Homo sapiens: one gene and its partner. The protein of the gene in region 2 interacts with the protein of the main gene of each other region in a pairwise test. Each region holds a gene or a part of one and is shown on either strand. Other genes may lie near its edges.

Region 1 (3,398 bases), on a different chromosome or scaffold from region 2:
ACTCATTTTTGGGTTGTGGTTTGATCACTCCCACCATCCTCTCAAGCCCCGGCTGTACAGGAGGTGGAATGTCATTTAAGACATAATCATTTCTCCTGCCTCCTAGAAATGGTGGGCATCCTGTGGTGGAAATCACAGTTTGCCCGAGCCAAGCAGAGAGCTGAGCTGACAGCCTGTGCTCTTCCGCCTGCATGGTGCTGGAGAGGAGCGCAGAGCCCACTCATTTGCAAGGACAGGGCTGTGTCTCGCAGCCATCAACTTAGGGTTCTACCCTTCAAGGGTCCAGGCAGGGACAGGCTTGAGCAGCTGTGGAATGCAAAGTGCTGACCCTCTTGCTCCAGGGTGCAGGTGTTGGAGTGAGCTCTCTGCTGCATCAGGAACCCCTGCAGTGAGTGTTGTCCACTCACTGGGATGCCCCTCCATCCTCTGGACAAAGGCAATTGTGAGGCTCTGCGCACTTGGAGGCCACCCTAACACACTCTTTCCTCTGCTTCTCCCGCTGCTGCAGGTTATGTGTTCTGTATGTTACATCGCCTCCCCGAGCAGCACGACTGCACATTCGACCACATGGGCCGTGGCCGGGAGGAAGCCATCATGAAAATGGTGAAGCTGGACCGGAAAGTGGGGCGCTCCTGCCAGCGCATCGGGGAGGGGTGCTCCTGAAGGCCAGGCATGGCCACCACGTGACGCTGTTCTTAGTTCACTAATGTTAGCCTTATTTAGGACAAAGTCAGCCAGACACCTTGTACTGGGCACGCGTCAGACTGCAGCCAGTCCGTTTCCTTTCTTTAGCCAGCCATCCTGGTACTGTAGTTTAGGGGTTGATGGTGGTTGAAATTGATTTCTGGCTGGTTACTAAGGTGCCTGCTAGCCATTGTATAAAATTAAAACATGAAGAATATTTTTTTTTTGAGCATGGCTAGTGGATTTAAAACAACACATACCTGTCACTGCTGGAGTCAAACTTATAAAAAGCCTTAAGTGGAAAGTGTTCCAGACGGAGACTCTGAGTTAATAGAGGAGTAGAAGCTGGTGTTAAAGTTCCCACGACGCACATGGCTTTGCCAGAAACTCTGTTTAATGATCGGCCTTTCACCTCTTCACTTATCCTTAGTCCCAGTAGCCAGGATACCTGATGGCCACGTGTGCCTTGGCCACGGGAGGCTGCTGAGATTGGCCACGTGGCTGGGCTGGGTGGTGGCCTCACTCTCCCACAGAGCTGGAAATGGGGGGTGGGGGACAGATTCTTACGGAAATTTTTTTACCTGACTTGCTATGAAAAAACTCATCACACAAGAAGAGAAACAGTAACCTCACTTTGAAAATTAGCTCCACTCAAGACTAGTCCACGAACGAGACCCGCCTTTTCTACACAGGATCCAAGGTCACGAGAAGCAGCCAGAGTGCCCCGCCTCCGCCGGCTCTGGTCTGCCATTCGCCAGTGCAGGGATCTGGCACGGACCAGATGTGGCGAATGGCAGCACAGCGCGGTGGCTGGGTCTGCACACTGGCCTCTGCAGCCAGATTTCTATATTGGGAGTTTTTTAAAAAGACATTTCATAGCCAACAAGAATCAGTAGAAGTGCTGGGAGCAGCAGCTGGGGAAGCTGCCGCCCACGGGCTCTGCCCCTTCCAGCTGGAGCCGCCCGTGCCTCCAGGGGCCAAGAGGATGATGTCGTGGCCTCCATTCTCGTTTCTATGCAGCCCCATAGTCCAAGGACACCCAGTCCACATCTACCATATAGCAAGTTTAGTAAGGGAAGGCAGCATACGTCCCAGGGACAGTGGGTTTGGATCTGTCTAGAACAGCGGTTTGTGGCTGTGGCCCAGCTCCGAGAGTGATATTTGCTCTGGTAGGTGAGGGCCTGAGGGTACATTTCTCCACCTGTGCCCCCTCATGTTCACAGAGGATTTCAGCAGCTGCAACTGCGCACGCCAGGTGGGGAAGGGTGGGGGTGGGCCTGGTTGCCCCATGTTAGGAAATCACTACCAGTCAGGTGGGGCTGGGGCTGGGTGGACAGGATCAGGATTCCCTTGAAAGCCCAGGCAGGGTGAGCAGTCCCAGTGGTCCTAGTGCCGCATCAGATCCAGGTGGGTGAGGGCAGGAGGCCCCTGCGGAGGCAGCGTGGATCTGCCCACACATAGGCTACTGGAATAGTTTAACCCAGCAACTTTCCTTTTTATAAAACAACAAATGGTTCAACTCTGTCTGCAAATTAACAGCTGAACACCTGCAACTGCAAATGTTTTTTGATCCGACGTACTGAAATAGGAAGTCATGCTCTTCCCACCCTCCACCCACCAGAGTGGAACCCGCTGCAAAATCCCCAGCCTTAATTCTTGCTTCAGGACCCAGACCGGTGTCTTGCTCTAGGGCAACCCAGGGCAGAGGGGCCAGGTCTGCCCAGCGTTTACCACTGCTGTCAAGCCACAGCCCTTGGCCACCATACGGGCCATCCTCAGTGAGGCAGCCCCCCATAGGCTTCCGCCAAGCTCTGGTCCCGAAGAGGCTGTGCGAGCCCTTCCCGGCCCTCCCCAGGGCCCCCCGCCCCCTCCTCTGCCTGCTGCGTGGAGGCAGCCATGGGAAGGAGCCCAGGGGAGCTGGCCTGGGGGAGCGAAGCCCATGTTCGCTTCCTGACTTAGAGCTGGGGGGGGTGGGGGGTGGGGCTTGTTCCCCTGCAGTATCTGTTCTGTGAAGTTTGTTAAATGTAAGGAAAGCTTAAATTCTTGTATCTTTAAAAGAGAAAATCTTATTTAACCCTTTTGTGTTCTAGATTTACTTACACACATAGCCTAGAGCTCAGTTTTAGTTTTAACATTGTGAAAATATTAAAAGAATCTTGTAACTTTATTCTTTTTTCTCCTGCTGAAAAAAAAAATTAAACCAATCGTATGAAAGTTTGGTTTTCTTGTTTCACCCCTTCTCCTAAGTGCCCCCTGGGTTGCTGGGAAAACTGACCCATCTCCCTGGCCAGGGCTGGAAAGAGATGGGGGCCTGTGTGCAGAGACCGTCTGCAGTACTTGGAGGCACTCGTCCAGTTAGTGTCCAGGCTAAACAGCCGCTTCCTTGCTTTCTGTTGGGAGCCTCTGCCCTGGGAAGCTGCGGGACTGGCCTTGGGGTAAAGGTGGGTCTGCAGGGCCAAGCCTGTGCCAGCAGCCAGGAGGTTACACACTGGGGGGGATCAGAAAACGAGCCCCAGCCCTGAGGGCCCCAGGCGTGGGTGGGGTGGGTGCTGGGTCCTGAGGGAAGGCAGCATGCCCTAGACCCGAACCCCACCCTAGGAAGGGCCTCCAGGATGGATGACGAAGGCTCCCAAAGGCTGGCTTGGAGGAGGTGTGTGCTGTGGCACTCTTTGGTGTATAGGATGAACTTAACTACATTTTTAAATGTTCAAAAA
Region 2 (4,089 bases):
TCTCAGCTCCCGAGTCCCAGGCTGGGAGGGCCCACAGTCCAGTAAACTAATCAGGCCCCGACACATCCAGGAGAGCAGCTCCAGGAGCCTGCATTGGGGAGAGAGCCTCAGACCCCTGCCACAGGCCTGCACCCCAGAAGTAGGAGCATGGGAAGACCTCTCCTTGGCTCCTGGCCAGCAGAAGTCACATTCCCCAGCCCTCTGGCTCCAAGGCAGCCTCACGTCCCAGTCACTCCTTGGCACACCCTACCAGTTGGTCAGAGCTCACTGCCAAAGGGCACCTCAATGATGAGTGGAGGGAACAGGTGTTTACCAGGAGCTTGCATGCTTTGCCTCAGGGATGATTAGGGACACAGCCAAGAAGGCACGCTATGCCCATTTTACAGATGAGGAAACGGAGGCTCAGGTTGGGCTGGTGACTAAGGGAAGCAGCATGTGGCAGGTGGCTTGAGGCATGTCTGTCCATCATGAGTAACTAGGGAGCAGCCCTGCCACTCCTCATGCGATGCACCAGGAGCCAGGGAAGCTGCTTCCTAGGGGATTCTAGCTAAGGCCAGAAGCATCTCCCTGAGTGGTGGTGGAGGCCTCTGTCTACTCCTCCAGGACTGCCAGGGGATAGGAGGGCACTGCTGACCTCACAGAGCCTCTTGGGTGAGTGAGCATCAGCTGAGCGACACCAGGTGACTACGCTTCTGCCCAGTGCTGTGCCCCCCTCTGACTCGGGCAAGGCACCACCCTGAACGCCCCACCCTGTCCCATGGAGGCCGCAAACTGCTCTGCAGAGCCAGGGTCTCCAGGAATGGGGAGGGCAGTCACCCTCATTCCACTTGTGTTCATGACTCAAAGGACTGCCCAGGTCTCCAGGCCCATAGAACCCCCAAACCTCTTACTAGGCCACACTGGGGACCTTGAGCAGCAGGCTTGGAATCCTAGGCCTTGTCTCCAGGTACATATCAGTACCCAGGCTTGGGAAGCTTTGGTCTCAGGGGGGCTGGCACTCAGGCCCTCTGCCTCAAGGAAGAAGCATGTCCAGATCTCTACTGTCCAGCCCTGCTCCCTGCCCCTATCCTTCACGGGGTCCCTAGGACAGGGTTACAGAAGCCTCATGCTGTCAGGGGATGCTGCCACCCTAGTTCCAGGGTGGCTCCGCCCAGCCCCTTCCTGCTGCCGCCCTCACTGACTCACCTGTCCAGCCTCCTACTGGGCTGGGGTGAGGGCTTATTGCCCCAGAGCCTAGATAGGCACCAGAGGCAGCTATAAAAGCATGTTGGGCCAGTCCTCAGCATCCTAGTTCGCCACTGTCTGCTGCCACACGATGCTGGGAGGCCTGGGGAAGCTGGCTGCCGAGGGCCTGGCCCACCGCACCGAGAAGGCCACCGAGGGAGCCAGTGAGGACCCAGGGCTCCTTTCTACCTGGGCTGGGGGGATCTGGGGCAGACTGGGTCTGTGGGAGGCGGATCTACGTAGGCAGGCGAGGACCTGCGGGGAGGCCTTGGCCCCTCAGGAACCCTGGTCTCCTGCTCTACCAAGTCAGCACGGAGTTGAGGGGTGCAGACCTGGGGAGGTCTCCTGGGGGCAGGGCATGAGTCCTGGTGCTGGGTGAACACTGGCAGCTTGGACCCTTCCCTCTGGAAATCTGGGGAGCCTTTCTTGTCAAAACAGCCTATTCTGAATAACCTATGCAGGAAAAGGAAGATGGATTTTTATTTTTACCATAACTTTAAAGCTTCAAAGATTTCTTAACAAGTCACCAAGTCTGTTCAAAGTCAAAAAGGGCATTTTCAATTTCATCCAAGTCCCCTAAAGCATGTTTATTTTTATTTGTATTTGTATTTGAAATGGAGTCTTGCTCTGGCACCCAGGCTGGAGTGTAGTGGTGCGATCTCGGCTCACTGTAACCTTTGCCTCCTGGGTTCAAAGTGATTCTCATGCCTCAGCCTCCTGAGTAGCTGGGATTACAGGCACCCACCACCACGCCCGACTAATTTTTGTATTTTTAGCAGAGACGGGGTTTCGCCATTTTGGCCAGGCTGGTCTCAAACTCCTGACCTCAAGTGATCCATTCCTCTTGGCCTCCCAAAGTGCTGGGATTACAGGCGTGAACCACTGCACCTGGTCCCGAAGTGTATGTTGTATTCAGAGGTCAGCAGGTATGTGTGGGGAGGCCCAGCCAGGCCCCACTCATGGGTCATCGTGTGAAAAAGTCTTGCCTGAGTTTGTGTCCTCTTTCTAAATGGCAGCAGATGCGTATTTTGTTTTTGACTCTGCAGCTGGTGTGGACCACCTGCTTTAACCTTTCACTAGCCTCTGAGTTTTTTATGATTCCTGTTGGGAGAAAAGCTCAGCGTTGGGAGAAAAGCTGAGGCAGGGCTTGCTAGACTTGCTGGCTCCTTGCTTCTAGCACTGCCATTCTCTCAAGTAGCCATATGTTTCTCATTCACTTGATACACTGTTTCCTTTCAACCTCCACATCCTCACCACCTGTTTCTTTGTTAGATCACCAATAAATAGCGTGGGCTCCCAGAACTCGGGGCCTTCGCAGCCTCCACACTCGCGATAGCGCCCTGCTCCCATTTTCTCTCTCGAACTGTCTCTTTGTCATTCCTTTGACTCCGCTGGACTTGCCGCCCCCGTGACCTGGTGTTGGGTCTCATCATCCCAACAGATTCCCATTCTAAAGATGAGGGAACCAAGAGGTGGAAGGTAGAGTTAGAATAAGAACCATTTCTTCTGACTCTGAAATCCTTCAGTTCTAGCACGCTACCACCCACACTTTAAAAAACTCTGAAGTAGGCAGAGAATTCCGTTTTGTTGGAGGAATTGCTTTGAGAGACCTGGTCTTAGTGGATGAGGCTTTGGAAACCAACCTGAGGCAGGCGCTAGCACATCCTGAGAGGGGTGTGACCTGGCACACAGGCCCAGCCTGGGCTTCATGTCTCAGCTGGCAAGACTGCCTGCTCATTGCCATTCCAGGCCGGGCAGGGCCAAGGGGCTTCAGGGACCCATGCCCTCATGGGGCTCATTGAGCTCGTCTCCCAGCAGCCAAGGCCCTGGCGTCTCCAAATGAAGCCAGCTGTGGGGGAAGGTCCTTCTCATGAGTCAGTCTGTCCTGGCTGGGGGTGGCACCCCAGAGCCCCATCTAGGATGCCCAGGGATGTATAGGTCTGTTGTGAGGATAAGCCAGCCCTGAGCCCTCACCCTGGACTGGGAGGGCAGTGGGCCTGCTCTGAGCCCTCACCCTGGACTGGGAGGGCAGCGGCTCTGCTCTGAACCCTCACCCTGGACTCGGGGGCAGCCGGCCTGCTCTGAGCCCTCACCCTGGACTTGTCTCCTCTGTTCAGTTCATGCCGTGGAGGAAGTGGTGAAGGAGGTGGTGGGACATGCCAAGGAGACTGGAGAGAAAGGTACAGCCGGCTGAGGTCGGGCAGGGAAGGAGGGAGGGAGGAAGGGAAGCTAGGTGCTGGGCCAACCTGTTCTTTGACTAACCAGGTCAAACTCTGCCCCTAATGTTGCAGCCTTTCAGAGCCTCTTGGCTGGGGCAGTTATCTATGCTCATCAGAGGCCACAGACTGTACTGCGTTAGGACACTGTCTAGATGGTTCTCTCTGTGGAATAAGAAGACAAAGTCACACAAGACTATGTGACAGCACACTGGGACAAAACATTTAACATGGCAGGGTGCGGTGGCTCATGCCTGTAATCCCAGCACTTTGGGAGGCTGAGGAGGGCGGATCATGAGGTCAGGAGATCGAGACCATCCTGGCTAACACGGTGAAACCCCGTCTCTACTAAAAATACATAAAAATTAGCCGGGCATGGTGGTGGGTGCCTATAGTCCCAGCTACTTGGGAGGCTGAGGCAGGAGAATGGTGTGTACCTGGGAGGCAGAGCTTGCAGTGAGCCTAGATCATGCCACTGCACTCCAGCCTGGGCTACAGAGCAAGACTCGGTCTCAAAAAAAAAGAAAAAAATAATTGCTGGGGGCGGTGGCTCACGCCTGTAATCCCAGCACTTTGGGAGGCTGAGGTGGGCGGATCATGAGGTCAGGAGATCCAGACCACGGTGAAACCGCATCTCTACTAAAAATAC

What was found. Proteins that work in one complex are often made in the same cells at the same time.
Region 1: the proteins of FAM25G (region 2) and ZFAND3 interact in a two-hybrid assay, tested with the Homo sapiens proteins (one large-scale study listed by BioGRID).

The regions. Positions count from the first base shown.
Region 1 is NC_000006.12:38,151,727-38,155,124, forward strand, and holds the end of ZFAND3 (AN1-type zinc finger protein 3), read left to right. Parts: intron 1-508; coding exon 509-663; 3' UTR 664-2,898; downstream 2,899-3,398.
Region 2 is NC_000010.11:47,488,901-47,492,989, reverse strand, and holds the start of FAM25G (protein FAM25G), read left to right. Parts: upstream 1-1,289; 5' UTR 1,290-1,315; coding exon 1,316-1,388; intron 1,389-3,341; coding exon 3,342-3,404; intron 3,405-4,089.